Linked DNA regions of Homo sapiens: regions 2, 3, 4, 5 and 6 are each linked to region 1. The links come from fine-mapping of genetic effects on gene expression. A gene starts in region 1. Each other region holds a variant in brackets. All regions are shown on one strand. Distances are from middle to middle. Region 1 holds the start of ARMC10 (armadillo repeat containing 10). Region 2 holds the start of ORAI2 (ORAI calcium release-activated calcium modulator 2). Region 3 overlaps FBXL13 (F-box and leucine rich repeat protein 13). Region 4 overlaps NAPEPLD (N-acyl phosphatidylethanolamine phospholipase D). Region 5 overlaps FBXL13 (F-box and leucine rich repeat protein 13). Region 6 overlaps FBXL13 (F-box and leucine rich repeat protein 13).

Region 1 (5,296 bases):
TACAGCTATGGACAGAGTAAAAAGTTAGAATTCTCCATCTTTTCCCCCAAAACCATTCCACAAGACATCTGTTATTAACAGTTTGGCATAGGTTCTATGCATGCACTATTGTCTTAAAGCTAGATATATACACATATATGTACATAAACACATATACAACATATATGAAATCAAATGGACAGCTAGAGCAGAATGGACAGTTGCTAAGCAACTTGCACTTTTTCTTTTTTACTTAATAATATGTGTTGGGAGCCAGCCATGTGGTGTATGCCTGTAGTCCTAGCTACTTGGGAGGATGAGGTGGGAGGATCAATTGAGCCCAGGAGTTTGAGGCTGCAGTGAGCTAGGATGGAGCCACTACACCCTAGCCTGGGTGGCAGACCAACACCCCGTGTCTCAATAATAATGATGATAATAATAATATGTCTTGGAGGACATTTCTTCTTAGTAGGTACAGATATACTTTATTCTACATAATGCCTCATTCGCTTAGTCACTCTAGGTCATTTACTATTTTTACTATGAAACAAAGTTATAATGAATATCCTTGTACATCCTCCTGAACACATGTGCAAGTATTTCTCTAAAGTAGATCCCTAGAAGTAGAAATGCTTGGTTAAAGGGTACATGTATTTAACATCTTAATAAATATTTCTCAATTACCATCCAAAAAAGAGACGGGTGGGGGGTCTCTACCAAATTGCCCTCCCAACCGCCTAGGAGCGTTACTACCCTCAGGTAGGACCTCCTCTTTCTTTCCCTAGACATCTCTCTCCCTCATTCTCCACATAACGTATCTTTGCTCGAACCTCCTACTGCACCAACATCCCCATCCCCACTCAAACACGCACATTCTTGGTAAATATCTCACCAACTATTTGTAGAGAAAAAAAGAGGTCAACAAAGGCAAATGTTCTCAGCTTCCTACCCCCAAACCTACAAAACCTAATGTCTATCCCCTTCCTGTCTTCCTTCCCTACTCTTATAACGGCAGTAGGAGGGCAGTCCTTCCTGTTGTCTAAAGGCAATCCTGGTTGAGAGGGTCCTTACCTTCACAAAGGGCTGACTACACTGACCAAAGGTCTCAGCTTCCACTCTTCCCTCCGCTAACCTCCATCTATTTTCTGCCCTCACGGCTCCATGGAAACCTCAGGCTCACCTTGGGCAGAATCCAGCTCCTTATCTTAGGTGACTAGTGCCTACTCCCTACTTCTGACAACATTCTTCATAATGCCAGTCTGCTGATTTTCCTCCTCAGGCTCTCTGGCACTTCTTTCTCACTCCTCCACTCCTCAGGTACTTCTTGTCCAAACCTTAAAATCTGAGTTTGGGGTTTCCGATCTGGGCCTTGTGCTCATTCCCCCTGGGAGATGTCACCCATTCCCCACGTGCAGCCACCATCACCCTCTGTTTTCTCTCTAATCAGCGTCTTCAGCCCTGATCGCCTACAAGTCCGAATTTGACTTCACTTTCTCGCATTCTGCCCCGCCTTCCCTCCACTCCTCCCCAATCCCGAAACCTAGTCCCTCCTCCGGGAAGTCTTTCCTGACTCCTCCCCCTTCTAACTCCCCACCGACGGTCTGTGTCCGCTGCCACGCGTGTCCAGTACCTCGCAGACCTGAGGAATGTAGTTCTCCTTGAAGTAGTTCTTCAGCCTCGGGTTGGCATTGCGTAGCGAGGCCATGGCCCAAGGCCTGACGGAGAAGCTGCGATAGTACCCTCCCCGCGCTGGGACTAGGGGCCGGGCGCGTGCGGGCGTTGTCCCGGCAACCAGGGGGCGGGGCTGGGCGTGGCACCGCCCCGCGCTCCGCTGCCAGGGGCGGGAGGGAGGAATGGTTGCTTCACGCCCCGGGGGAAGAGACGGGAAGCTCGGCTCTGGGTTGCGGGCCCCGGCGTCTCCGCGTGGGGCGCACCGTCCGACCCCCCCCTCCCGGTGTGCAGCGCCCCGCACCGCCCCGCCTCGCCTGGGAGAAGCCGCCGGGACGCGCCGGGCTGGAGTGGGCGGTTATAGGCTTTGAGCTAGGCCGTTTCCGGGAGGCGGAGCTCAGACCCCATTTCCTTTCTCCACATCCAGGTCAGGTGGCGTTTGCTGTGGCGGCTAGGCCCGCGTGCGCTGGAGACCTCCGCGCTGGCCCCCGCGAGCCTCCTGCCCTGGCCCGGCGCTGCGGCTCTGCCGCGGCGGCAGCATGGGTGGCCCCCGGGGCGCGGGCTGGGTGGCGGCGGGCCTGCTGCTCGGCGCGGGCGCCTGCTACTGCATTTACAGGCTGACCCGGGGTCGGCGGCGGGGCGACCGCGAGCTCGGGATACGCTCTTCGAAGTCCGCAGGTGGGACCCCGGGGTTTCCGGCAGGTGGGCGGGGACTGGGCAGGGGGGCTCCCCAGGCCGGGGTGGTGGCTTGCGTGTGCTCGGGGTAAAATGAGGAGCCGAGCTAGAGGGAGAGGCAGTACTTGTGTGAGTGCAGGGTGCTGCGCCGCCCCCGCCGCCCCTTTGCTGACTATACTGGTATGAAAACTTGCCCTGGCTTTCCTGCCTGAGCTCCGCGTCACAGCGGAGGATTAGATTTCTTAAAAACCTGTTGATGGCCTCTCATTTTAAAGCTTGCTCCGGGCCTTTGTGTAACTAAAGGGATTCTCCCGATTGTGGAAGGGCTGTTGAGGGGCCCAGAGCCATAGGTCAATCTCTGCTTGCAGGTGCCCTGGAAGAAGGGACGTCAGAGGGTCAGTTGTGCGGGCGCTCGGCCCGGCCTCAGACGGGAGGTACCTGGGAGTCACAGTGGTCCAAGACCTCGCAGCCTGGTGTGTGTTTTGGAAATGGGAACAGTTGTCTGCGCGAGACACACCCTCCCAGCGGACAAATGCATGATTCGGTTTCTGTCCAAAAGTTGATCGGTACATTAAAACCCTCCAAAGGCATGTTTCACATCATGGAAGCTGTTAGGGAAATAATTTAAAATATCATATCTGCCATCCAAGAAACTCCTGTCCACAATTGTAGAAGAGAGCTAAACAGCTTCATTGTTGAATAAGCACAAACTAAATTGCCTCACACATCACGGGCAATTTGCTAATGGGATAGCAGGAAGAATTCTAATTCCTTTAAATGTAGCTGGACAGATAGAACCGATTTCATATTACATACGTGTTCTCAAGATAAAAAATAATTTGTCCTTAGGTAAGAGGACTTGACAGTACCATTTGCTACATGTAGTTTATCCTGAATTTACTGGTAATTGGGGTGGTTGTTATCTAATTGCCTTTATCCAGAGGAAAAATAAAAATATCTTTATGATGTGGAACCAGGTGCCCAGGCTAAAAACTCACAGAGTTGGGGAGATTGGGGATCTATCTTCCTGGAAGAGTAGGTTTCAAAGAGTACGCTTTCGAACAGTAGGCTCCAAAGCTTTTAAGAAAGTCTTTCTTGGGCTGTAAAACTGGCCAAATGCTTATTTCACTTTTAAAAAGATTTACAGGCTGGGTGTGGTGGCTCACACCTGTAATCCCAGCACTCTGGGAGGCCAAGGCAGGCGGATCATGTGGTCAGGAGTTCAAGACCAGCTTGACCAACATGGGGAAGCCCCATCTCTACTAAAAATACAAAAATTAGCCGGGCTTGGCGGTGGGTGCCTGTAATCCCAGCTACTCAGGAGGCTGAGGCAGGAGAATCACTTGAACCCAGGAGGCAGAGGTTGCAGTGTGCCAAGATTGCACCATTGCACTCCAGCTTGTGCGACAGAGCAAGATTCTGTCTCAAAAAACAAAAAACAAACAAAAAGATTTACATTTGTATCAAAGAAGCAGAAAAAGGAGTTTTGTTTTGTTTTCAGACAGGGACTCCCTCTGTCACCCAGGCTCGGTGCAGTGGCGCAATCACAGCTGCAGCGGCGCAATCACAGCTGCAGCCTCCACTTCCCTGGGCTCCTCCCACCTCACCCCACTAAGTAACTAGGACTACAGGTGCACACCGACACCTGGCTAATTTTTCCAATTTTTTAGGAGATGAGTTTTCACCATGTTGCCCAGGCTGATTTGAACTTGGCTTAAGCAGTGCTCCTGCCTCAGCATCCCGAAGTGCTGGAATTACAGGATTGAGCCTCCTCACCTGGCCAATAAAGGATTTTTAATTACAAGTTTGCACGAGGGAATGCTTTAAGAAAAAGGGAGTGGAAGGGGAAGGTCTCTCTCACTTTTGCCACTAGGTATAATTCAGCTTTTTTTTTTTAAAGATTTGTATGTACCCTTACTGTATTAGTCCATTTTCTGTTGCTTATAATAGAATATCTGAAACTGGGTAATTTATTAGGAAAGAAATTTATTTCTTAGAGTTATGGAAGCTGAGAAGTCCAAGATTGAGGGGCCGTAGCTGGTAAGGGCTTTCTTGTTGTGGCATAGGGCATCCCAAGGCCAGAGGGGCAAGTGTGTTAACATGCTGACTCAGGTCTCTTGTTCTTATAAAGCCACCAGTCCTGCTCATTAATCCATGAATGGATTAATTCATTCATGAGGACAGACCCCTCATGATCCAGTCACCTCTTAAAGGCCTTACCTCTCAATACTGCCACATTGGGAATTAAGTTTCGACATGAGTTTCGCAGGAGACATTCAAATCATAGCATTTACAAAGCCTAATTTGTTGTCTTTGCCCATGTCAGAGATATTTTTGTATAAGTACATTGGGAAGGTGTCCTGGACTCAGATATCTTCTCAGTTATACTGACTCAATCTGATGAATGTGGACAGTCTTTTAAACTTAACAGTTCCCATAATCATCATTATCTTAGGTAAGGCAGCTTAAAAAATAATTTGCTCACAGTCCCTTCTTCCTGAAGCTACTCCTTTATCATTGAAGAAGACTTGAGAAATGCTCATTTCATCATCAATATGGTTTGGCTTTGTGTCCCCACCCAAATCTCATCTTTTTCTTTTTTTTTGAGACGGAGTCGCACTCTGTCTCCCAGGCTGGAGTGCAGTGGCATGATCTCAGCTCACTGCAACCGCCACCTCATGGGTTCAAGCGATTCTCTTGCCTCGGCCTCCGGAGTAGCTGAGATGACAGGTACACACCATGTGCCTGGCGAATTTTTTTTGTATTTTTAGTAGAGACAGGGTTTCACCATGTTGGCCAGGTGATGTGCCTGCCTTAGCCTCCCAAAGTGCTGGAATTACAGGCATCAGCCACTGTGCCCGGCCCAAATGTTATCTTGAATTGTAATCCCATAATCCCTACATCGTGGGAGGGACCCGGTGGAAGGTAATTGAATCACGGGGGCAGTTCCCCTCCCCTCCATGCTCTTCTCGTG
Region 2 (5,296 bases), 640 kb before region 1:
GTTTACTATTTGGTGTACTTGACTAAAGTTAGCTACGATTACCATATATTAACATATATTTCAGTAGAGAGAACACTCTTGGAAATTAACCTGGAGCGAGTTCCAGGAGGCCGTTTCTTGTTTTCTTACTCCACAGAATGTCACAAATCCACTGGGTGTGGTGGCTCTTGCCTGTAACCCCAGCACTTTGGGAGGCCTAGGCAGGAGGATCACTTAAGGCCAGGAGTTCAAGACCAGCCTGAGCAACATAGTGAGCCCCACATCTCTAAAAAATAAAAATTGAAAAGTGCACCTGGCCTAGTGGCATAGTCCTAGCTACTTCCAAGGCTGAAGTGGGAGAATCACTTGAGCCTGGGAGATTGAGGCTGCAGTGAGCCATGATTGTGCTGCCGCACTCCAGCCTGGGTAACACTAAGACCTTGTCTCAGAAGTAAAAGGCTGGATGCAGTGGCTCACACCTGTAATCCCAGCACTTTGAGAGGCCAAGGCAGGTGGATCACCTGAGGTCAGGAGTTCGAGACCAGCCTGGCCAACATGGTGAAACCCCATCTCTACTAAAAATGCAAAAATTAGCCGGGCATGGTGGCCAGTGCCTGTAATCCCAGCTACTGGGGAGGCTGAGGCAGGAGAGTTGCTTGAACCTGGGAGGCAGAGGTTGCAGTGAGCCAAAATGATGCCACTGCACTCCAGCCTGGGCAACAAGAGTGAAACTTCGTCTCAAAAAATATAATAATAAATGAAAAAAAATAGCAAATGTTTATTGAGCACCAACTAAGTGCAAAATCCAAGGGATTCCAAGGCCCATTGCTAGGCACTGGGGATGGTGGTGGACAAGACACAGTCCTTGCCTTCAGGGGGCTCCAGGTCTGAGCAGGAACAGGATTGGGGAGAGCAGCACAGCCTGCTGTGTGGGCACCTGACCCAGGCCTCTGCGAAGGCGAGCGCTGAGCTGAAGTCAGGTGGCTCAGGAGAACAAGAGTGCCCAGAAAGCGAGCTGGGGAGGGAGGAGGCGCCCTGCCATGGCCTCAGACCCTGTTAATCAGGGGACTGGAGTCTCAAAGGCCACAGGGTAGGGGCTGGAATGGAGAGACATGGGGGACCTTTGAGTTTGTGGAAGGGGACAGGGCTCCTGCCTTGCCATGCAGACCAGAGGTGATGGTGGCCTGAGTTAGTGCAGAAGCAAGTGGGGACAGGGAGAAGTAAGGGAGAGTCCAGCAATGTGGAGGTGGGAGAATTGTCACGACCCGATGGGGAGAGGACTCATGGGTGCCAGCAGCTGAGTGGGTGAGGGAACCCTTCTGAGACAGCTGACCCAGGCGGTGGGGCAGGAATGCGAGGGAAGATGACAGATTCGGCTGTGGGCCTGGTAAAGTGGAGGGCCCTAGGCATATGTGCTGGGAAGAGAGATCAAGGCTGAAGGTGATGATGGGGTTGTCAGGCTGCCCTGGTCCTTGGAACTATGGGAGTAGATGAAACCAGTCAGGGAGGAGCAAAGAGAGGAGAGGGACCCAGACAGAACCCTGAGAATCGCATATCGAGGGGACAGAAAATGGGGGGACAAGCAGGCAGACTCACTGGAGCCAAGGAACAGGGTTTCCTGGTAGAAGGAGGGGTCCCCGATGACAGGGCTGACAGCTGAAACATCCTCTGGGTTTAGGCAGGCAGATCAGCTGAGGTCAGGAGTTGGAGACCAGCCTGGCCAACATGGCGACACCCCATCTCTCCTAAAAAATATATACAAAAACTTGGTGGGCGCCTGTAATCCCAGCTACTTGGGAGACTGAGGCAGAAGAATTGCTTGAACTCGGGAGGTGGAGGTTGCAGTGAGCCAAGATCATGCCATTGCACTCCAGCCTGAATGACGAGCGAAACTCCATCTCAAAAAGAAGGAGCTATTATAGGCCAGGCATGGTGGCTCACCCCAGTAATCTCAACATTTTGGGAGGCTGAGGCCGGCAGATCACTTGAGGCCAGGAGTTCGAGACTGGTCTGACCAACATGGTGAAACCCTGTCTCTACTAAAAATACAAAAATTAGCCAGGCATGGTGGCCCGTGCCTGTAATCCCAGTTACTTGGGAGGCTGAGGCATGAGAATCGCTTGAACTCAGGAGGTGGAGGTTACAGTGAGCCAAGATGGCACCACTGCACTCCAGCCTGGGCAACAGAGCAAGACTCTGTCTCATAAATATGATAGAGAAAGAAAGGAAAGAAAAAGGGAGGAAGGAAGGAAGGGAAGGAAGGAACGAAGGAAGGAAAGGAAGGGAGGGAAGGGAGAGAAGGGAGGGAAGGAAGGAACGAAGGAAGGAAAGGAAGGGGGGGAAGGGAGAGAAGGGAGGGAAGGGAGGAAGGGAGGGGAAAGAAAGAAATGAAGGAAGTGAGGGAGGGAGGGAAGGAAGGGAGAGAAAGAAAAGAGAAAAGGAAGGGAGGGAGGGAAAGAAAAGCAAGCAAGCAAGCTATTCTGTGTTTGGTTAGGAAACCAACTCTGCAAAGCACTGGCAATTACAACTTGCATTTTGCTTCTGTCTGGGCATGCTGGATAAATATGCCTGTGGGGTGGCGGCATCAGTAACGGGCACAGGAAGCTTTCTCAAGGATGAGTGAAGTCGCTGCAAGAGTGA[G/A]AATTCAACAAGCAAAGGACTCCTTTGCTGAAAGCACATTCATCTATGATGCAAACTACTGCGTTTACAAAGTGTTTTCTTCCTGTTTTGTGTGTGTGTGTGTGTGTGTGTGTTTTGAGACAGAGTCTTGCTCTCTGGCCCAGGCTGGAGTGCAATGGTGTGATCTTGGCTCACTGCAACCTCCGCCTCCCAGGTTCAAGCGATTCTTCTGCCTCAGCCTCCCCAGTAGCTGGGACTACAGGCGTGCGCTACCATGCCTGGCTAATTTTTGTATTTTTAGTAGATATGGGGTTTTACCAGTTGACCTGGCTGGTCTTGAACTCCAGGCCTCAGGTGATCAGCCTCCCAAAGTGCTGGGATTACAGGCATGAGCCACCGAGATTCATTTTACCAAGAACTCCACGTTGGAAAGCCATAACATGATTGCTTTTTGAGGACTTTACCCCTGAAATTCAAATGTTCCCTCACCCATAGCCATTGATGGGGGTGGCAGGAGGAGGGCCAGTAAGGAACCCTGGGATTTGCTTATGTCCATGTTAGGGCCTAACTTGCCTTTTAGGTCAGTAACCCGGAGGGGGAAACCTGGTTTATTAGACTAAGTGTCCTCCTGGTTTCATTCTGGCTGTCAGCAGTAGCCTGTAAAAGACAACTCGAAGTGTAGATGGATTTAACCTGGCGTCCGTAACATCTACTCTTCCAATTGTCATAAAATGTGGGCTGGCTGACATGAGTGGAATTTTTCCTTCGTTTGGATAAATGTGTCACGGTCCAATGCTGTTGTGACAGATGGAAAAATCCTATGTAGGGCACGCAGCAGCCTACCCGGCATGGAGGAAGGACTCCAAGGGACCGTCTGGCACCGCCGGGCTGATAGGAACCCATCTTGTCTGTCTGTGAATTATTCATGTGCTGCACTTCCTGAAAAGAATGCTCCTGTTTGACTGCCTCGCTCGTAAAACCGCAGAGAATTCACCGTTAAAGGTGAGAGGCTCCCTGCAGTAGGGAGTGGAAGGGGCCAGGGCACAGCAGAAACTCTTTGCTGCTGTCTGCGAACAGCATGAGAAGGACAGCACGCTGCACTGAAGTTGGGACCCCAGGGGTCTCGCTGGGTCTGTGAGTGGCAGTGCACTCTGGGTGGCAACCCCCAATTAGCTCAGTGCAAGCTCTTCATGGTGCCATCCAACACCCTGGGCAGGGGCCAAGCAAGGTGGCCCATGCCTCTATGCCCAGCACTTTGGGAGGCTGAGGTGGGAGGATCACTTGAGCCCAGGAGTTCGAGACCAGCAGAGGCAACATAGCAAGACCCATCTCAATTTTTTTAAAAAATTTAAAAATTAGCTGGACATTGTGGCACATGCCTGTAATCCCAGTGCTTTGAGAGGCTAAGAGAGGATTGCTTGAGGCCAGGAGTTTAAGACCAGTCTGGGCAATACAGGAAGACTCTATCTCTAAAAAAAGAATTTTTTTTTTTTTTTTTGGCTGGGCACAGTGGCTCACATGTATCATCCCAGCACTTTGGGAGGCCGAGGCAGGCAGGATCACCTGAGGTCAGGAGTTCAAGACCAGTCCGGCCAACATGGTGAAACCCCATCTCTACTAAACATACAAAAAAGTAGCCAGGCTAGTGGCGTGCACCTGTAGCTCGGAGGCTGAGACAGGAGAATCGTTTCAACCCCGGGGTCGGGGGTTGCAGTGAGCCAAGATGGCACCACTGCACTCCAGCCTGGGTGACAGGGCAAAACTCCCTCTCAAAAAACAAACAAAAACAAATTTTTTAAAAACTACCACGGTGTGGTGGCTCCTGCCTACATGTAGCCTCAGCACTTTGGGTGACTGAGGGCAGAGGATCACTCGAGCTCAGGAATTCGAGGCTGCATTGAACCGTGATCGCACCACTGCAGTCCAGCCTGGGCGACAGAGCCAGACCCTGTCTCAAAAAAATAAAAAAAAAAATCCTGTGAAAACTCGGGCGTGGCCAGACGGATTCTCCCCTCCCCACCTTCCTTTCCCCTCCACTGCCCACCTGCACCCGCCCGCCCTGTCCCCACTCCCCGCCCCTCTACGCAGCCAGCGTCCAATGCTGGGCACCCCCCGAGGCTCACCCTGCCAAGCCTGGGGCTCCCCTTTTGCGCCCGGACCCAGGGGCAGGGAAAGCCCAGCTCGTGGTCTGTGGGTAGCCGGACCCCCGATGGGGCGGTGGGGGGCCTCGCCTTGACTCCCAGAGCTGGGGCCGGGGACAGGAGCTGGGGCAGGAGGGATGCGCGCGGGTCGGGGTCTTCCCACCTCCCCTGCTCCTCTCCCTCGCGCGATCCCGGGGTGGTTCCAGGTGAGGCGGGGACCCCCACCCCCCCACTCTCCGAGGAGGCGCCGCCAGCCCCGCCCCTCCCGGCCCGGCGGGTGACGTGGCCGCGGCTCTCCCGCGGGTGGGTCACGTGTTGGCGGCGCCTGGTTGCCTTGGCAGCGGCTGCGGCGGCCGCGGGGGCGGGGTGGAGGCGGGGCCGGGGGACCCCGCGCGACCGGCGGAAGGAGGGAGGGGGCCGCGCTCGGCGCCCCGGCCGGGCCACTGGGCCACAGGCCACGCGGCCACGCAGTCCGAGCGGGAGCCGAGCCGGGCGGGGCGAGGGCAGCTCCGGTGAGTGTGGCGGCGCGGGGGCCTGGCGCGGGGAGCGGGGTCCCT
Region 3 (5,296 bases), 150 kb before region 1:
ATTCTATTATAAAGAGGTCCGCTGGGTGTGGTGGCTCACGCCTGTAATTCCAGCGCTTTGGGAGGCCCAGGCGGGCAGATCACCTGAAGTCAGGAGTTTGAGACCAGCCTGACCAACATGGAGAAACCCCATCTCTACTAAAAATACAAAAATAGCCAGGCGTGGTGGTGGGCACCTGTAATCCCAACTACTCAGGAGGCTGACGCATGAGAATCGCTTGGACCCGGGAGGCGTAGGTTGCCATGAGCTAAGATCATGCCACTGCACTGCAGCCTGGGCGACAGAGCAAGACTCTGTCTCAAAAAAAAAAAAAAAAAAAGGTCCCAGACACCAGACTGGAATGTAAGGGCCAGAAAGCTTGAATGCCCAGAATGGGGGACCAGAAAGAAGCAGGCAAAGTCTAACTCAAGCTACTGGGCACATTGCTGTAAGAGTCACAAAAATGCTAGCCAAGGCAGACCAGTTCAGGCACCAGCTTAGGGACTTGAAAGCAGCAGACCCCTTATCAGAAAAGCAGTGCCACAGTGGTGGGGTGTTGATAAAGGGAGCACTGCCCTTGCAGAATGCTAGAGCAAGCCAGAGACTTTGGGAGCATAATTTTTTTCAGTGTCATACAAATAACACAAACATTACCTCGGCAGGAGTCGCATCGTCCTGTTGGTGATAGTTGTGTTAGACAGATTGAGACACAGGACCCCCGGGCAGCCCTCAGAAATGTGTCTCATTGATTCATCCTGCATGAAAAACAGAGGGAAGAGGCTTATCAAATTATAGCAGGCTTTGCAATTTCCCCATTATCTTTCTATTATCCCTCTTCCTGTTCCAGAAAAAAATACATGTAAGAGTTGGTTTCTTCATATTCTTTATCTACTATTAGGTTGAAATGAAATTAAATAGAAGCCAATGCTTTTGCTCAAAGCATCATTACTCCCTCCTTTTCCCTTTCCTTGGAAATCAAGTCTCATTCCATCACAATGACACTTCATTAAAATGTGAACCCATGCAAGTTCAACTCTGTCACACGAAATTTGAGCTCACATGTCAAAGTGCCAAACACTTCTGACTCTTCATATGCAGGAAAGCAATTAAAAACTGATCCATTTTAAACTTATTAAAATTATTCTGAAAGGCATACTAAACACTCTCAACAATGGAACTTTAGTAACAGTCCATATTTATACACATATACATTTATACATAGATGTGTGTGTATAATTAAGCTTCTGTGGTTCTGTTAACTAAATATTTTAAATAGCTGAACAGATTTTCACCAGATTTATGGTAAGTTTGAGATGGCTAAAATAAAATAGAGGCTACATACCAGTTGGGCAGGAGATTCAATGCTGGGAGTAGGGTGGGGGAGGATCTCAAAGATTCAAGCATCCTTCCCCCAGAAAGCTGAAAACTGAAGTAAGAGAGTAGTGGGACCATGAAATAAGAGAGACAGAAAAACAGAGGTTTCAAGCACAGATTCTAAGTTGAAATTTACAAGACCAGATGAATTGCAAGCTTTGACTGCAACAAGCTGCTTTTTGTATAGGTAACACTATATAAAATACAACGAGTAGCAGCAGGTTTTTATTTAATGATTGATGAATCTCCCCAGGAACATCAACAGGGCAGCCAGTTTAAGTATTAGTGGTGCATGCAATGTTTGACGCTACATCAGTCCCAGAAAGAATAGACCACTGCAGGTATCTATCTGTCTGGAAGAGGTAAATCATTACTAGGCTAGAAGATGTGGTTCTGAGAAGAATTCTGCATCAGAAATATGACCACTCCTAACACCACTAAAGATAGTAAAGGCTTATTTTCAACAGGATCATTGAGGTTTAACATTCCATTCATTACTATTTCCAGTAGTCATGGATTTTTAAAACAATAAAATCCTGCAGGTCAGAGCATCTGTCACACTCAGATAGGAATTGGTTGATTTACAGGGGCAGCAAACCACACCTTAAAGAGAACACAAGATTCTATTTGAAGCTGTAAATCTCTGTGATTCTGCTATAGGGAAGGTTCTATGCACCCATGCTGCATGAGAGGCCAGTGCAGAGCTTTTGATAAACACTACTCTTAACTACAGTATTCAAGCTGTCAGCATTTTTTCTAGATGCCCCATCACCAAAATGAAGGATTTGAATAGGTATGGATAGATAAAATGTGTACAATTTTTCCAAAAAGAATCTAGAGAATAACCACGTGTGGCACTGTATTTCAACACAATGAAAATCTGTCTTTGAAAACGTTTGGCATGCCAATCAAGTATCAAAGTGATTATACACTTGTTGAAAGACCTTGGCAAAATGCAAATGAGATGGGGCAAGGAAAGGAGAAAGAGCTCACTTAAACACCCTCAGAGAGGCAGCCACAAAGATGAAAATGTGGGGACCAGGAAGAGGAAGGTGGAGTAGCTTTATGTATCATAAAGAAATCTGACTTTCTGTTTGAGATGAGGAGGCAATCCATTCTTTGCATTTTCCTGTCTAAAGAAGCTTGGACATCCAAACAAAATTAGACC[A/G]CTCCCATTCTCAGATTGAGATGAGGAGGTAATGCATTCTCTACATTTTCCTGTCTAAAGAAGCTTGAACATCCAAACAAATTTAGACCACTCCCATTCTTAGTACTTAAAAGAACTCAAGATTTAATCCCCAAATGTTTGAACACATAAATGCAAAAACTGAGTACCTACATTGCAGAATGACTTATGAATTTGTCCACAATGTACTCAAATCTTTCTGAATGTAATATATTTCATAGGATAAGCTTAGAAATCAAAGCTCTTCGAATGAGTGTTACCCAACTCCTTAAATGTAAGCCTGTGTCCCAGTCTACGTCTCAAAGGGAAAAACAATAGTAAAATGTAGCTGGATAAAATTATCAGCCCTGTATATTATTAGACTCCAAAATCGGACAAGACTTTGATGTTCACAAATTCAATGCATTGTTTTGACTTCCCTATTAGAGGGCCAAACTCAAAGAATATGATATCTTACTCAAGTACACAACTGAAGCTCCCTGAGGACAAGAACTGAAAAATGATTAGTTTTTTAATTCCCTCCAACACCTAGCAGAACACATTTAACATAGTAGGTGCTAAAACATCCACAGAAAGAGTAAATCCATTTGACAAACAACTTCATTATAATGACAGGCAGACATCTGGAGAATGTAGTAGTCAAGATTTAAAATCCTTCTTCATGAAGGAGCCCACGTTCACTTTGCTAGTGGAGAAAGAGTGCAACCAGAGAAAGCAGAACATTTTTTTCTCTGATGTGATATTTGACATGTCTGTCTATGCCTCCATTTCTTGCGGATGACCCTGAAGGGTACTTTTGAACATAAAGGAACAGCTTATTTATGTTAAAGTACAAGCCACTGAGAAGATGCTTAGTTTACAGTCTATGGTGGTTCTTTATGTTCTGCTGGACAGGGATTAAACAACTAATTTAAATGCTGACTCTGTGTGTTGAGGTAAGGAGTGGAGGAGTTCTGAGGGTCTTAACATTCTTCTGTACACATTCTATTTGTGTATAATGCCTTCCATGTTTTGAAAAGATGTTTTACTGTGGAAATGGGATGGATTTCATGGGGAAAAATTACTAAAGGAGGATTTTCAAAGTGCTCAGTTCTAAAACGGGAGATACATATGTAAACATAAGTGTAATACAGTGTGAAGTATCTGTGTTGAAGTACTGAGACCATATGTAGCTCAGAAGAGGGAGAAATTAATTCTGTCAGCTGGGTGCGGTGTCTCACGCCTGTAATCCCAGCACTTTGGGAGGCCGAGGCGGGTGGATCACTTGAGCTCAGGAGTTCGAGACCAGCCTGTCCAACATGGTGAAACCCCATCTCTACAAAAAAAATTCAAAAATTAGCCAGGTGCAGTGGCACGTGCCTATAATCCCAGCTAATTGGGTGGCTGAGGCAGGAGAATCACTTGAACCTGGGAGGTGGAGGTTGTAGTGAGCCACGATGGCACCACTGCACTCCAGCCTGGGCAACAGAGTGAGACTCCATCTCAAAAAAAAAAAAAAAAAAAAATTAATTAAGTTAGAAATTAACTGTCAAAAAGTGAACAGAATTGCATAGGGCCGGGGGTTGAGAGAAAATGAAGGGTGACTGTTGATGGGCATGGGTTCTGTTAGGGGTGAGGGAAATGTTCTGAAGTTGGTTGTGGTGATGGTCAAACAACTCTGTAAAAATACCAAAACCATGAAATTGTACACTTTAAGTGGGTAAATTTAATCTCAATATAAATATAAATTTATTATATCTCAATAAAGCTGTTTATTAAAGGTCAATAAACAAAGAGAATGGAAAGACCCGATAGCATTGAAGAGTGTGTTAAAGAATGAACAGGTGTTAGCCAGTTTGGGCTAGGGGTGGTGGGGAGGGAAGGGTAGTCATTTAGGCAGATGGAAAAACAAGTTCAAAGACACAATGAAATAGCATGACATGAACAGGGAACTTCAAGTGGTTCAGTATTGAAATAGAGTAGAATTTTGAAAGAAAAAACTAGAAAGATGAGGCTGTAAAAATGAGGCTGAGAGGTAGCAGGGAGGGGCCAATTCATGCAGTCTTTTCACCAGCGAGGAGGGCTTGGCCTTCATGGTGGAGCTGGTGCCTCATGATTGGCATTCCACAGCCAGGCTTTTCCTCCTATTCCCTCCTATCTCGTTAGGGACTTACTCCATGAGTTGCTTCAGCTGACTCTCCATCATCCTCTATAAACCTGTTTCCATTTCCCTGCCCCTGTTTTCCTTCTACCACTCTCTAAGACACTTTTCTGGAAAGATCAGTTTATGCCTAATGCCTCACCTTCTGACCTCTTCTCCACTTCACAATTCATTGCAAGTAGATTTCTGCTCCAATATCCCACTGAAACTGTTGAAGCAATAATTGGCAGTCCCTTCTGATTCTCAAATCTACAATGCATTGTTCAGTCCTTTTCTTACCTGTTCACTTTGGTTCTTTCTGAAACTCTTTACTCACTTTCATTTTGTGATACCTCTTCATTGTCAACCTACTTCTCTTACTATTCCTTCTGAATATCCTCTGTTCCTAAAAGTCAGCATTCCGTAAGGCTCAACTTTAAGTCTGCTCCTCTTCTCAAACCTTCTAAGTTGATCTTATTCACGCTTATGATGTTAATTATGACTTATACATAGATGTCAACCCAAGATGGAATCTCAATTCTAGTCAATGTTGTCCATTGCCTACTTGGTATCTCCAGATAGTTGCATTCACTAAATATTATTGAATATAATATGCCAAAGTTCGTGCTGTTGTGCTA
Region 4 (5,198 bases), 31 kb after region 1:
GTTAGAATTAGGCCCTTTCTTTTAATTGAAGCATTAGCAAATGGGTCTATCACATTTTCTAATACAGTTTTGAGTCATGAATTAAGTCAACAGGTATTTGGTTGGATAGAAATCATGCCAACACCATGTATGTGAAATTTGGTGCCATCTTACTTTGAACATCACTGGATTGCATGAAATCATCACGGTTTCACCATATGAAATTCCAATCTAGATGGAATCAGTGCCAAAGATGATGTTATTAGAGAATTACATGTTACTAACATTTTTGAAAAATATAGAAATCAAATTGTGGTGTGTGTGTGTGTGTAACCAAATGCTAGAGCAAATTGTTTTGCTGAAGAAGGGTTGTTATCCTCAAAAAGTCTAGTCACATACAGAAACCACAGTCTACAGAATGAAAGAGGATCCCAGAGAATATGAAGGTTGAGCTCTGTGTGGCAAAGAGGAGTCAAGATTTTGCCCTGAGGAATTGCTAAATGGGAGTCACCCTTTACTGAGATGTTTGAAAAGTAAGCTTGAGGGAAGATGAGAAAGTTTAATTTCAGACTTTAGTTCTAGGTACCTAATGGATATCCAAGTGGAGATGTGAAGGAGACAGTTGGATATATAAATGTGGATTATAGAAGAAAAACATCTGAGCTAGAGAGGAACAGCAGGTAGGTGGTATTTGAAGCCATAAGACTGGATGCGATTCCCAAGGGAGAAACCAACTACAGAAGAGAAGAGGTCCGTGGACTGACTTCTACGGCACGCACTGTTCAGAGCAAGCGGAGAGGAGGGACTAGCAACAGAGAATAAGGGACAGCCAATGATGTGCAAGGAAAACCAGGCAAGTTTCCTGAGCCCTTAAATGCACAGGTTTGGTAACAGTTGTTGGCCACACACAGGTCATCCTTTTCCCCCTTGCTCAGTTCCAGGTTTTATGGCTATGTTTAAAGATAAAGGATACCTTTCAACTGACTACTGAGTAAGTTTGGTTTTAACTGTATGCTGGTTATCCAATATTCCTAGAGCTAACCCCTTAGTAATGGATAGTTGATAACAGGAATTTACTTTTAGTCTATTTTATATATAAAGAAAAAAGATCACTAATTATATTACAAATAAAATTTAACTTTATACCCTAAGTCAAGAAATTTCCCCTGAAATAATTTCCTAAATTATTTTAAGAGATTTCAAAATGATGAGCTTTTTTCCCATTGAAAAATAACTTCTTTTGTTAAATTCTCTTTCTCCCATGCTGTACAAGTCTGGGCTAACAGTACACACTCACAGAATCACCCTACGTCAGTAACTTATTTGCTAAGCTATAACTTTAGTGTGGAGGGCGATGTTTGCGTTTAGTGAGAATTCTGATATGTTAGAGTTGGCAGTAGACCCTCTGTCTTTAATCTGCCTAGATTTAGCAGTATCTTTCTGAGTTTCTTCACAGACCAATTCTTCGCTGTTTCAACCATCTGGAAGATAACCCTGGAGGTAGGTCTGAAAGGCTTCTGAGTGACTGAGAGCTCACAGTCCAAGCACTTTAGTCCAGAAGGGAGATAAAAATGCCCCATAACCATGGGACAAAACAACTACATATAAAGCAAAACAGCAGATCAGAGATCAATATGAGTAAATGGGAAAAGCAGAAGACTCCGAGCATTCTGGATCCATTAGGGTCTAGGCAGCTAGCCACACACAACTCGTAAATTCCTAAAGGGGTCAGTTTCATGATATACAACAATAGAATATATTCAAAGTAAAGACCCGGATCACTTGAAAGGCAATGTACATATTATGTAATGCTTGAAACTCGTTTCCATCAAAACTAGTAATTTAAGTTTTAGTGCTTAAATATATGTAGGAAATGCACTCATCATTCCCTAGATAAATTAGATGTTGCCATATATGCAATTTTAGAGTATTGCCAAGTTAAGGACATCCTTAATCTGCTTATATTACACGAGGCAGCTACTATAACAGCATATATGCA[A/C]AGAGTGTTAAAGTGTTTAGAAGTCATGGGTAACTGGCTGGGTGCAGTGGCTCACGCCAGTTAAGGCTGAAGCGGACGGATCACCTGAGGTCAGGAGTTTGAGACCAGCCTGGCCAACATGGCAAAACCCTGTCTCTACTAAAAATACAAAAATTAGCCAGGCATAGTGGCCGGCACCTGTAATCCCAGCTACTTGGGAGGCTGAGGCAGGAGAATTGCTTGAACCCAGGAGACGGAGGTTGCAGCGCGCCGAGATCGTGCCACTGCACTCCAGCCTGAGCAACAGAATGAGACTCCGTCTCAAAAAAAAAAAAAAAAAAAAAAAAAGGCTGAAGAGGAACAGCTCTGGTCTGCAGCTCCCAGTGAGGTCTACACAGAAGGTGGGTGATTTCTGCATTTCCAACTGAGGTACCTGGTCCATCTCATTAGGGCTGGTTAGACAGTGGGTGCAGCCCACGGAGGGTGAGCCAAAGGAGGGTGGGGCATTGCCTCATCCAGGAAGAACAAGGGGTTGGGGAATTCTCTCCCCTACCCAAGGGAAGCCATGAGAGACTGTACGGGGAGGAACAGTGCACTCCAGCCCAGATACTGCACTTTTCCAATAGTGTTCGTAACAGGCAGACCAGGAGATTACCTCCGGTGCCTGCCCCACCAGGGCCCTGGGTTTCAAGCACAAAACTGGGCGGCAATTTGGGCAGACACCAAACTAGCTGCGGGAGCTTTTTTTTTTTTTCATACCCCAGTGGCACCTGTAATGCCAGCAAAACAAAACCGTTCACTCCCCTGGAAAGGGGGCTGAAGCCATGGAGCCAAGTGGTCTGGCTCAGCGGGGCCCACCCCCACAAAGCCCAGCAAGCTAAGATCCACAGGATTGAAATTTTCGCTGCCAGCACAGCAGTCTGACCCTGACCTGGGATGCTTGAGCTTGGTAGGGGGAGGGGCGTCCGCCACTGCTGAAGCTTGAGTAGGCAGTTTTCCCCTCACAGTGTAAACAAAGCCACTGGGAAGTTCAAAGTGAGCAGAGCCCACTGCAGCTCAGCAAGGCCGCTGCAGCCAGACTGCCTCTCTAGACTTCTCCTCTCTGGGCAGGGCATCTCTAAAAAAAAAAGGCAGCACCCCAGTCAGGGGCTTATAAATAAAACTCCCATCTCCCTGGGACAGAGCAACTGGGGGAAGGGGTGCTGTGGGCGCAGTTTCAGCAGACTTAAACGTCCCTGCCTGACAGCTCTGAAAAGAGCACTGGTTCTCCCAGCACAGCGTTCGAGCTCTGATAAGGGACAGACTGCCTCCTCAAGTGGGTCCCTGACCCCTGTGTATCCTGGCTGGGAGACACCTCCCAGTAGGGGCCGACAGACATCTCATACAGGAGACCTCTGGCTGGCATCTGACGGGTGCCCTTCTGGGACAAAGCTTGCAGAGGAAGAAACAGGCAGTAATCTTTGCTGTTCTGCAGCCTCCGATGTTGATACCCAGGCAAACAGGGTCTGGAGTGGACCTCCAGCAAACTCCAGCAGACCTGCAGCAGAGGGGCCTGTAAGAAGGAAAACTAACTAACAGAAAGGAATAGTATCAGCATCAACAAAAAGGACGTCCACTCATAGAGCCCACCTGAAGGTCACCAACATCAAAGACCAAAGGTAGATAAATCCACAAAGATGGGGAGAAACCAGCACAAAAAGGCTGAAAACTCCAAAAACCATAACACTTCCTCTCCTCCAAAGGATCACAACTCCTCACCAGCAAGGGAAGAAAACTGGACACAGAATGAGTTTGATGAATTGACAGAAGCAGGCTTTAGAAGGTGGGTAATAACAAACCCCTCCGAGCTAAAGGAGCGTATTCTAACCCAATGCAAGGAAGCTAAGAACCTTGAAAAAAGGTTAGACAAATTGCTAACTAGAAAAAACAGTTTAGAGAAGAACATAAATGACCTGATGGAGCTGAAAAACACAGTAAGAGAACTTCATTAAGCATACACAGTATCAATAGCCGAATCGATCAAGCAGAAGAAAGGATATCAGAGATTGAAGATCAACTCAATGAATTAAAGCGAGAAGACAAGATTAGAGAAAAAAGAGTGACAAGAAATGAACAAAGACTCCAAGAAATATGTGACTATGTGAAAAGACCAAATCTACACGATTGGTGTACCTGAAAGTGATGGGGAGAATGAAACCAAGTTGGAAAACACTCTTCAGAATATTATCCAGGAGAACTTCCCCAACCTAGCAAGACAGGCCAACATTCAAATTCAGGAAATACAGAGAACACCACAAAGATACTCCTCAAGAAGAGCAACCTCAAGACACATAATCGTCAGATTCATCAAGGGTGAAATGAAGGAAAAAATGTAAAGGGCAACCAGAGAGAAACTTCAGGTTACCCATAAAGGGAAGCCCATCAGACTAAGTTACCCATAAAGGGAAGCCCATCAGACTAACACCAGATCTCTCAGCAGAAACCCTACAAGCCCAGAAGAGAGTAGGGGCCAATATTCAACATTCTTTTTTTTTTTTTTTTTTTTTTTTTTGAGATGGAGTCTTGCTCTGTCACCCAGGTTGGAGTGCAGTGGTGCAGTCTCAGCTCACTGCAACCTCCACCTCCCGGGTTCAAGCAGTTTTCCAGCCTCAGCCTCCTGAGTAGTTGGGATCACAGGCGTGCGCCACAACACCCAGTTAATTTTTGCATTTTTAGTAGAGACGGGGTTTCACCATGTTGGTCAGGCTGGTCTCGAACTCCTGACCTCATGATCTGCCCGCCTCAGCCTCCAAAAGTGCTGGGATTACAGGCGTGAGCCACCACGCCCAGCTCAACATTCTTAAAAGAATTTTCAACCCAGAATTTCATATGCAGCCAAACTAAGCTTCAAAGCGAAGGTGAAATAAAATCCTTTACAGACAAGCAAATGCTGAGAGATTTTTGTCACCACCAGGCCTGCCTTACAAGAGCTCCTGAAGGAAGCACTAAACATGGAAAGGAACAACCAGTATAAGCCACTGCAAAAACATACCAAATTGCAAAGACCATCAACACTATGAATAAACTGCATTAACCAACAAGCAAAATAACCAGCTAACATCATAATGACAGGATCATATTCACACATAACAATATTAACCTTAAATGTAAATGGGTTAATGCCCCAATTAAAAGACACAGACTGGTAAACTGGATAAAGAGTCAAGACCCATCAGTGTGCTGTATTCAGAAGACCCAACTC
Region 5 (5,296 bases), 81 kb before region 1:
ACCCATCTCCTAAGTGGATACTCAAGGCCTCAACAACGCAGACCCAACCCACCTTTCCAAACACATCTTGTTACTGTCAACTTAAATTCTCTATCATCTCCTTTTTACAAATGAGACAATTTAGAAACAGAAACATTAAGCAGCATGCCCAGCCACAGCTGTCACACAGCTAGTGACAGAAGCGGCCACCCAGACTCCAGGGCACATTCTCCCCATTTCCATGTGGCTGCCTCTTACTGGGGTATAGTTTTTTGTCTTTCATATGCTAGATCATTTTGCAAGGGTGGTCCTGCTAAAATTAATAGAACTGCTTCTGCAATTTAAAAGTCATGAAAACTTTAGATCAAAATCACTTGTAAACTTTTTCCCTTTTTGGGAGGGGGATGGGGTCTCACTCTGTCACCCAGGCTGGAGTACAGTGGCACAGTCACAGCTCACTGCAGCCTCAACCTCTCCAGACTTAAGCAATCCTCCCACCTCAGCCCATCGAGTAGCTGGGACTACAAGACATACGCCAGCACATCTGGCTAATTTTTGTATTTTTCATAGAGACACAGTTTTGCCATGTTGCTCAGGTTTCTCTGGAACTTCTGGACCCCAGCGATCCACCTGCCTGTGCCTCCAAAAGTGCTGGGATTACAGGCATGAGCCACCACGCCCAGCCTGTAAACACTTTAACAGAGACAGCGATTAAGACTAAAGTGATGAAAGTGAGGTCTATGGGTAGAGCAATGTTCCACCAAAAATCAACTGTTCCCAAAGTGACTTCTAGATGTTTTGTTTCATTTGCTTTTTCACCCACACCACAACTTGAGCCAATATCCACATACTTCCTTGATAGAGCAATGTGGTTGTGGAACCTTTCCTTATCTGAAGTTCACACAGTACACAGCTATGAAACCTGGAACCACTGTCTGCATTGGTGAAATGAGGTCAGACTGACCCCTGAGGTTATCAAAACATAGATCTGAAAAGTCACTGGGAATATTCTTTTGTTTTACAAGTAATTCTAAGTAATTTAATCAAACAGGCCTGAACCATCTGGCTCTTTTACAACATGGTACTAGTTTTAATAGCTATCCATGTTTCTTTTCTTCCCCAAGTGAGAAAATGAGTCATCAACACAGTAAAATCTGAAGGTGATTTTATAACCGTTTGCAAGTCCACATGACATATATCTTTTACAAACAAGAAGTCATAGTTGTTTAAAATGAAGACAACCCTAAAGCAACACTTACATTATTAAACTAATCAAGTAATTTTACATTTTAAGAAACTGCATTACTTAACTATTTTAGAGTTTCCAAATTCATCAGCATAAGGCTTTTCTCTGTGTTGCTTGCCAAACTACACAGAAGGAAAAAAAAAAACCAAACTTGTATTTTCACGGAAAACAGTCTTTGCCAACCCTCCCACTAGCTCTAAGTTTGGCCAACAGTTTGACTGATAGTGTATGAGCCCTACCATCTGCTAACTAAGCAGCATTTCCTAACGGGTAAATGATACTAAGAAAAATGGTTGCAAAACAGAACCTGACTTGTTTTCATGAGTTGATGTAACTGAACCTAAAATGCAAGACTACAGTTTGTTATGTGTATTCTAAGAAAGTTCAAATTGTATCCCAATCCAAATTGCTGGTTTCAATTATTCCTTCAAAACATTAAACAGCCTGTATATAAAAAACCTCAATTTATTTAAAAAACTAACACTTCTAACCATTTTAAATAAGGTTCAGACCAAATTCACATCACATTTTTGTTTTCACACCTTTCCTTCTCAAGTCCCTGAGTTAGTGAACCAGATTAAATGCCATTTAAAAAGTATGATTTAAAAAATTAACTTTGCAAATCTATTATACATTAATAAGCATAACAAACCCAACCATTCAAGATATTAGTCTTAGAATAATTAACTTATATGTTTATATGCTATTATATAAATCTACTCTTATTACTTGTGCATTTTTAATGAACATTCTGCACATTATTTGGGGAAATTTTGAGGATATCTATAAAAATAATACTGGCTTTTTTTTCTGTCATATCAAGATTTAGTAACTTTAAAAAAGTTACCCTTGTTTTTTTAAGGACAGGACAACTAAACAGATGTATAATATTCTTAATTATTGCTTTTTGTCTCATGAAATATTAATATATATTCTATTTCTTTAGAATTCTCCAAGAGGAAAAAAAAAAGATATAGAGGCTATAAGCTTAGCCAAGGACACAGAAAAACCAGGTCCTGCCCTCAGTTTTGTAGTTGTCTGACTTTGGGGATGTGAAAAAAGTTATCTGAAAAGGAATTTCGAGAAGAGAGACTTTATTCCAGTGAACAGTTTCCAAACGGGGAAGACAAACCCTTCAGTGGAAACAAAAGATACATTAAAGAAAAAAGGAGGGTTTCGCTTTTATAGTTAAAATTCCCACCCAGCTTTCCACTCAGGTCCTCTTATGCAAATACAGAATTCAAACTGGCTTAGTTCTGATTGGTTGACACTTGCAGAGTTCTGATTGGTCAATGCTGCTGGCTTCTGATTGGTCAGTGCAGGCTACACTCTATTGGTTGGTTCAGGCCACGTGGACAGAAACTGTTAGCTATGACAACCCCAAAGTTAAGCAGATGTGTAGGTTTTCTGGGAACTCAGAGTATGTGTGTGAGCTCTAGTCAGCAAATGGCCACCTGACTCTATTTTAAATTTCAGCCCAGTTAGGTACTCAAAACTCATCTTGAGAGATTGGCTCTTTCAGATTCGCACATAAAATTTCTCAGATCCACAGCTGTCCCTCTTGTAAAAGGTAAAAGCTTAGCACAAACATCTCTAAGCTGTCTTCTAGCTTGATCATGCTATGGTTTGAGCACTCTGGTAGACTTTATAAATCTGGGCCCCAAAGGGCTCTACTTTATTTCCCATGAGCATGGGGGAAGCTGGGGTGAGAGAAGGCATTAAAAGCATAGTCAGCCAGGCACGGTGGCCCACGCCTGTAATCCCAGCACTTTGGGAGGCCAAGGCGGGCAGATCACGAGGTCAGGAGATCGAGACCATTATGGCTAACATGGTGAAACCCCATCTCTACTAAAAATACAAAAAATTAGCTGGGCGTGGTGGTGGGTGCCTGTAGTCCCAACTACTCGGGAGGCTGAGGCAGGAGAATGGCGTGAACTCGGGAGGCGGAGCTTGCAGTGAGCTGAGAT[C/T]GCACCACTGCACTCCAGCCTGGATGACAGCGAGACTCCATCTCAAAAAAAAAAAAAAAAAAAAAAAAAATAGGCCGGGCACAGTGGCTCACGCCTGTAATCCCAGCACTTTGGGAGGCGGAGGCAGACGGATCACAAGGTCAAGAAATTGAGACCAACCTGGCCAACATGGTGAAACACTGTCTCTACTAAGAATACAAAAATTAGCCAGGCGTGGTGGTGTGCACCTGTAGTTCCAGCTACTTGGGAGTCTGAGGCAGGAGAATCGCTTGATCCCGGGACGTGGAGGTTGCAGTGAGCTGAGATGGCGCCACTGCACTCCAGCCTGGTGACAGAGCAAGACTCTGTCTAAATAAATAAATAAATAAATAAATAAATAAATAAAGGCATAGTCATAAACCATAACACCATACAGAAAGTAATCTTTAAAATGCAAAAACTGGCAATGATTTCTACTGTCCTGAGCAACATTCCCCAATTATTCTACACATTTCCCATATTCTGAAATGGTTTTCCCAAAGTGAACCTAAAACTTAGATTATTCCAAACTCTTTGCTATTAGTTTAGGGTTTGGTGGGAAAATGGGGGTGAGGTAGTTTTAAAGATCAAAGGCCAAGAGGGCTGAAATTGCTCAAGGTCATATTGCTAGTAAACAGTTGAGACTGGATTTAAACCCAGTTCTCCCTGAGTCCTGAGCCTGGACTTTTAATCAATATATTGTCAAACTAAAAGATTGCTGTTGAGAAAATATGTAAGTTCATAGTTTGTCATAATGGTTGCTGTTTCCATATACAAGCTTTTCTAGGCCCTGGATCCCATTATGAAATGATTTGCTAGACTGTGGGTGCTGTGGTTCTTCAGTAGTTGGCTTTTTTGTTCTCTGAATTGTTCACCACAGGGGTCTGGGATAGGAAAGAGCATTAGACCAGAGTTCATTTGCAGCACTGATATAATGACTTATTAAACACTTGCTTACTTCTTATCTGCTGTGATTGTTCCTTTGTTGTTGTTTTGCCTTTTTACTGCAACCTAAACAACATCTTTTCTGGCAAGGAAAAATGCCCTTTTAGATACTGATGACTGGTAGTTCAAATCCACATTCAGTGAGACAGACTATACTGATTAACTCACTCAAACTCCACCCAAAGTCCTCTCCTCCCCAGCAGTTTAACAAGGCCTTGTGACAAAGTTCTAACCTAAAACACATCAATGAAATTCCTGACTGTGGGAATTTGGGGAAACTTTGGATTTCCTCATAAACAAATCAACAAACATCTTGCCTTTACCACTGTGCTTTTTCCCCTCTCTGGCCTGGTAAAAGAACATGAGGCTGGAGGTGGAGTAGACATATTGCAATCATAAGACAAGCAAGAAGATCCTAAGGACTGTGGACTAACAAGATAGAAAGACTTCATTTTTATTGGTATTGTGGATGACTGGCCTTGGACTGCTTTTCTCTGCACATTGTGTAATATGAAACAAATAGCCCTTATTTCTTTAAGTCTTACCATTGGTTATATTTTATTATATTGATAGTTGAAGACAGTGCTCACTGATATATTTGAGAATTACTAGACCGAGAGATCCATAAAAAGAAAGATGATGTGTTCATAAAAAACGTGAAGCCTTAAGATTTTCCAAAACCTTATCCCTTTATTCTTCTGTTCCAACCAGCACTAGAATATTTTTATAGTTATTGAAAGCTTGCCATTTATGTCTATTCATCAATAACTGCTTAGAGATTTTACTTTCAGACACAAAATGAATGACCGCGGAAAACATTCATGCTTTTATTATAGATCTGCACCATCTTTCTTAACATTGGATTAGAACACCATGAAGTAATTTCTCTTTTAAAATGGATACATAATAGTTGTACATATTTTGAGGGTACACGTGATATTTTAATATATGCATACAATGTGTAATGATCAAATCAGGGTAACTGGGATATTAATCACCTCCAACATTTATCTTTTTATGGGAAGACTCCAGTTCTTCTCTTCCAGCTATTTTAAAATATACAATAAATTATTGTTAACTACAGTCACCCAACTGTACTATCAAACACTAACTCTTATTCCTTCTATCTAACTGTATTTTT
Region 6 (5,296 bases), 43 kb before region 1:
TTGCAGTTCTGCTGTTCACTATTAAAACAGAATGATTTTCTGAATCATTCTGAATCAAACAGAATGATTTTTTTCAAGGATATAAACTGAGATTCTCTTTTCAACATAGAGGAATTCCTCATTTACCAAGCAGGAATAGGAAAACCACATAAATGAAAAGTCTAAACTGTGGAATATGCTTAAAGAGATGCAAATTTATCACTTACAACTATTCACAATAACATGTGGCAACAGCTAACTGAAATCATCTATACCTTCTGTGCATTCTTTAATAAGTAAAGATATTATTATATTAACATAAGTATTATATGCACATGGCTACTGTTAAGTGTTAATGGTGTTTTCCTCTTATTTTGTTGCCCCTTTGCTTACTATATAGATATACAAACATATGGTCACATCTATTTGGTGTATAGGTAAGTTTGGTTCAAATCTATACCAACAGCCAGGAATTCTGAATTCTACTTTTCTAAGGCAAATGTTTTCTCCTTTGCACATTGCTGTAAATACTTTGTTAAATTAACAGATATGGCATACACATGTTCATCATAGATTTATTTTAGGCATACAAGAAAGGCCCATAGGACCCCCGACATGTGAAAATCCTCACTTTTGATGGAGATTAAATGCAAATTATGCCTACAGTGAGGGACAACATAAACGATTCAAGTCATTCTTCACTAAATTCAGATTTTTATAGAAGAAAGGAATCCAGATGAGTAAAGGAGTATTGAGGATATTACAGCAGGCAGAATAAAAACCAAGAAGGGGATGAGGTGGCAAAGGCAGACAAATTTCACTAACATTACAATTTTTCAGTACTGTTGTAGGTCCCTAAATTTCATGAGCTTAATTCTTTTTAGATGATATTACCTGAAAAGTCCTAAATAAATAACTACAGTAAATGATATGTCATAAAAATATGAGTATATTATATGACCAAATGAATGTAGTTCAAAACATTATAGTAATAATGATTTTGAAAAGAATTATTAAAATTCAGCAAATACCATTTGAACTCAAGTTTTCTTTTCTGATGATCAACTCTTTAAAACAGCATAAAAGCATTTTCTATTCTATTATTGAAAGAAGTAATTTAAATCCTCATTAATTCATGATTTATAATACACCAGAATTTTTGTTGTTCTAATATTCATTTTTTAAGAGTTTCTCTTCATAAATTTTTATTTTAACTTTACATTTATTGTTCTCCCAGTTTGCAAGGGAGGGAGGGAGCGAGGGAGCGAGGGAGGGGAAAGGAAGGAAAGAGAGAAAGAAACAAACTCACAATTTTTCATTATTATTATTATTGGTATATATTCTTTTCTTCACAGGGAAAAGCAAGTTTAAGAGAGCATCTCCAAGGGACTAATATGCAAGAGGACTCCAGCCCAGTAATGCCCCATTCCCCACTTAGGGGTGGGCATGTGTTGACTTCACTGCAGCTCCAAGGAATCTCTGGCCAATCCAATCACTGGGCACATGTCTGGACCACTTAGTCACATGGCTTCACTTCCTCCATTTATGTTTCCACCATCCACACTCCAGCCAATGGCTTCCCACCCTTCACAGTCGCTGCATATTGTTTAACTGCTTCTGACTGAAAAATATTCTTCCTCTCACCTTTTAATTCCAGCTGGCAGTGTTTTGCACAGAGTAGGAGCTCAACAAATATATATGTATTGATCCATCAACAGAATTAGAAAACTGCTTAAATGCAAGCCAATTCTCCACCATCTGACTACCACAAATGGAGGGCAAAGGATTCTGGTAACAACTTTGTGGGCAAGTCAGTGGATAAACAGCAAGTTAGTGCTGGCTACAGATGGCCTCAGAGTACCCTCACATAACACTCACACCACTAGTGCTGCTATCCCCAGACACCCGTAGTTACAAACAAAGTGAGGGAGGAATGGACAGTGCATCACAATACGATTTCTAAGAGTCCAGGTACACTGAAAGGTTAATTTCTAGTCTGGAAATAAAAGAAAAAATTCTACCATAAGAGATGATTTTTAAAGTTAAAGAGTGGGAATGTGTAAATAAATAATGAATTCGTTGCAAAAGATTTTTCATAGTATTAAGTTAGGGTTTAACACTACTTTTTTAGGCCAGTGGCCTACAAGAAGCCAGTTGGAATCAACTGCAAAACTTGTAAACTACCCAGGCTCACTTCCCAAGATTCCTTAGCCCTCCACTCTTACCCTCTCTAGGAATTACTGCTGTGATTAGTCACTATTATGACTAAGAGTATGTCTTATTCCTCATGTACACTGGGGACAGAAGAATGTTAAGTCCCAAATTTTAAGCTGAGTTCCAGCAGCATACAATAGCACACACACTAGTTTCAAGGAAACATGTTTTTATAGATTAGGAGAGAAAAAGAAGTGAAATATAAAACTGATTTCTTTTTGAAAAGATATTATATGTAGCATGATTACAACCCAGTCCTAAAAAAATAGCTTATAAAAAAATTTCATTCCTCTGCCAGGGTTGGAGGAAAATAAGATTTAAAATTTCAAACTTACAGAGAAATAAAATAAACACCTAATACCCACAATCCATGTTTAACATTGTCAACATTCTGCCATACTTGCTTTTTCTATTTTAAAGTATATAAATTAAGACATCATGACATTTCATCCCCCAAATCTCATAATATCCATCTCTTAAAAAATGAGTACCTTTTCTTTGCAACCACAATTCCATTATCCTGCCTTAGACACTTAATAGTAATTGCTTAATATCATTGTACCCATGCCATAGCCAACTCTCTGGAATTGGCCTCCAAATGTCTTACACGGTTTGTTCAAACTAGAATCCAGACAAGGACCATATATTTGCATTGCAAACTCAGTTGATGCGAGGATTTCAATAGCTACAGAAAAAAAGTTTTAGTTTTTCCTTCTCCTTTTCTATATTTTCAACATTTAATGAGTATGAGGTGTGGAGGTGGGATAACATTGGCCTAAATCTAATGGATTCTGTTACCTGGGCCTGTCTAATATTACATTCTAAAAGTCAGCCAGGCATGGTGGCTCACACTTGCAATCCCAAAACGTTGGATGGCTGAGGTGGGAGGATCCCTCGAGCTCACGACTTAAAGAGTAGCCTCGGCAACATAGTGAGACCTTGTCTCTGCTAAAAATAAAAAATTAGC[G/A]GGGTGTGGTGGCATGCACCCATAGTACCAGCAACTTGGGAGGTTGAGGTGGGAGAATCACTGGAGCTCAGATAGAGGCTGCAGTGAGCAAGCTATGATTGTGCCACTGCACTCCAGCCTGGGCAACAGAGTGAGACTCTCTCTCTCTGTCTGTCTGTCTCTGTCTCTCTCTCTCCATCCCCCCATACACACACACATACACACTCACACACACAGAGTTCTAAAAGTCAATTTAAATATTTTTGACAGACAAGAGACTAAGAAAGGTTTTTTTGTTTGTTTTTTGTTTTTGTTTTTCTTTTTTTTCTTTTCCTATGCTCTGAAAGAAAGACAAGAATGGGGATGGGGTGGGGAGCCACATGTCATCTGTCTCTGCCACCTGAATCAGGGGTCTGAGTCTTAGGGAAGAACAAACTGCAGGCAGAATCCAAAAGAACTGCTCCTATGAGGCACACAGCACTATTTGTGCAATACAAAGTGAAGGAAAGGCATTGTGTCCAGAATTGGTGGGTTCTTGGTCTCACTGACTTCAAGAATGAAGCCGCGGACCCTCGCGGTGAGTGTTACAGTTCTTAAAGGCGGCGTGTCTGGAGTTTGTTCCTTCTGATGTTCGGATGTGTTCGGAGTTTCTTCCTTCTGGTGGATTCGTGGTCTTGCTGGCTCAAGAATGAAGCTGCAGACCTTCCCGATGAGTGTTATAGCTCTTAAGGCAGCGCGTCTGGAGTTGTTCGTTCCTCCTGGTGGGTTTGTGGTCTTGTTGGCTTCAGGAGTGAAGCTGCAGACCTTCACGGTGAGTGTTACAGCTCATAAAGGCAATGTGGACCCAAAGAGTGAGCAGCAGCAAGATTTATTGCAAAGAATGAAAGAACAAAGCTTCCACAGTGTGGAAGGGGACCCCAGCGGGTTCCCAATGCTGGCTCGGGCAGCCTGCTTTTATTCTCTTATCTGGCCCCACCCACATCCTGCTGATCGGTAGAGCCAAGTGGTCTGTTTTGACAGGGCGCTGATTGGTGTGTTTACAATCCCTGAGCTAGACACAAAGGTTCTCCACATCCCCACCAGATTAGCTAGATACAGAGTGTCGACACAAAGGTTCTCCAAGTCCCCACCAGAGTAGCTAGATACAGAGTGTCGATTGGTGCATTCACAAACCCTGAGCTAGACACAGGGTGCTGATTGGTGTGTTTACAAACCTTGAGCTAGAGACAGAGTGCTGATTGGTGTATTTACAATCCCTTAGCTAGACATAAAGGTTCTCCAAGTTCCCACTAGACTCAGGAGACCAGCTGGCTTCACCCAGTGGATCTCGCACTGGGGCTGCAGGTGGAGCTGCCTGCCAGTCCTGTGCCGTGTGCCCACACTCCTCAGCCATTGGGTGGTCGATGGGACTGCGCACCGTGGAGCGGGGGGCGGCGCTTGTAGGGGAGGCTAGGGCGGCACAGGAGCCCATGGACGGTGTGGGGGAGGCTCAGGCATGGCGGACTGCAGGTCCTGAGCCCTGCCCCACGGGAAGGCAGCTAAAGCCCAGCGAGAAATTGAGCACAGCAGCTGCTGGCCCAGGTGCTAAGCCCCTCACTGCCCGGGGCCAGTGGGGCCGGCTGGCCGCTCTGAGTGCGGGGTCCGCTGAGCCCACGCCCACCCGGAACTCCCGCTGGCCCGCAAGCACAGTGGGCAGCCCCAGTTCCCACCCACGCCTTTCCCTCCACACCTCCTCGCAAGCTGAGGGAGCCGGTTCCGGCCTTGGCCAGCCCAGAAAGGGGATCCCACAGTGCAGTGGCAGGCTGAAAGGCTCCTAAAGTGCCGCCAAAGTGGGAGCCCAGGCAGAGGAGGCGCCGAGAGCGAACGAGGGCTGCGAGGGCTGCCAGCACACTGTCACCTCTCAGCATGTCCCCCACTACTGTACAGCACACAGAGTACAAGGCCATCAAATTTAATGTGACTTTAAATTTTGCAAACTTAAACTAATGTGATACAAAATATATTACAAAAGTCTTACATTATGCCAGTTTTTGAAAAAACACAATCTTTCAAATTAAAATTTTACTGAGAGGTATTTCCTTTCAAAGCTGGTGGGAAAACGAATTAAAAGTTTAAGTATTGCCACAAAGTGGTACTATTTTGGCAGGTAAACAAATG

The links.
Region 2: its variant is fine-mapped to the expression of ARMC10 in spleen (GTEx, PIP above 0.99).
Region 3: its variant is fine-mapped to the expression of ARMC10 in whole blood (TOPMed, PIP 0.99).
Region 4: its variant is fine-mapped to the expression of ARMC10 in whole blood (INTERVAL, PIP 0.98).
Region 5: its variant is fine-mapped to the expression of ARMC10 in whole blood (TOPMed, PIP 0.96).
Region 6: its variant is fine-mapped to the expression of ARMC10 in whole blood (TOPMed, PIP above 0.99).

What each region holds. Positions count from the first base shown.
Region 1 is chr7:103,073,087-103,078,382 of GRCh38, forward strand. It overlaps ARMC10 (armadillo repeat containing 10), which reads left to right and starts at 2,054. Exons shown (of 7, transcript NM_031905.5): 1 at 2,054-2,325; 2 at 2,691-2,795. The coding sequence starts at 2,187. It overlaps FBXL13 (F-box and leucine rich repeat protein 13), which reads right to left and starts at 1,710. Exons shown (of 21, transcript NM_001394494.2): 1 at 1,610-1,710. The coding sequence starts at 1,684. RefSeq lists a silencer at 1,641-2,480 and an enhancer at 2,751-2,800.
Region 2 is chr7:102,428,411-102,433,706 of GRCh38, forward strand. It overlaps ORAI2 (ORAI calcium release-activated calcium modulator 2), which reads left to right and starts at 5,165. Exons shown (of 4, transcript NM_001126340.3): 1 at 5,165-5,251. RefSeq lists silencers at 2,932-3,226, 4,625-4,764, 4,795-5,296. The variant G/A (reference allele first, on the strand shown) is at 2,620.
Region 3 is chr7:102,925,641-102,930,936 of GRCh38, forward strand. It overlaps FBXL13 (F-box and leucine rich repeat protein 13), which reads right to left. Exons shown (of 21, transcript NM_001394494.2): 11 at 634-734. The region is part of intron 1 of LRRC17 (leucine rich repeat containing 17); the gene reads left to right. Among named protein-coding and RNA genes, the nearest start is that of LRRC17, 15 kb to the left of the region's middle. The variant A/G (reference allele first, on the strand shown) is at 2,522.
Region 4 is chr7:103,103,653-103,108,850 of GRCh38, forward strand. All of the region lies in intron 4 of NAPEPLD (N-acyl phosphatidylethanolamine phospholipase D), which reads right to left. Among named protein-coding and RNA genes, the nearest start is that of ARMC10, 31 kb to the left of the region's middle. RefSeq lists an enhancer at 2,062-2,931. The variant A/C (reference allele first, on the strand shown) is at 1,979.
Region 5 is chr7:102,992,243-102,997,538 of GRCh38, forward strand. The region is part of intron 7 of FBXL13 (F-box and leucine rich repeat protein 13); the gene reads right to left. Among named protein-coding and RNA genes, the nearest start is that of NFE4, 21 kb to the left of the region's middle. RefSeq lists an enhancer at 1-473. The variant C/T (reference allele first, on the strand shown) is at 3,193.
Region 6 is chr7:103,029,725-103,035,020 of GRCh38, forward strand. The region is part of intron 3 of FBXL13 (F-box and leucine rich repeat protein 13); the gene reads right to left. Among named protein-coding and RNA genes, the nearest start is that of FBXL13, 42 kb to the right of the region's middle. The variant G/A (reference allele first, on the strand shown) is at 3,161.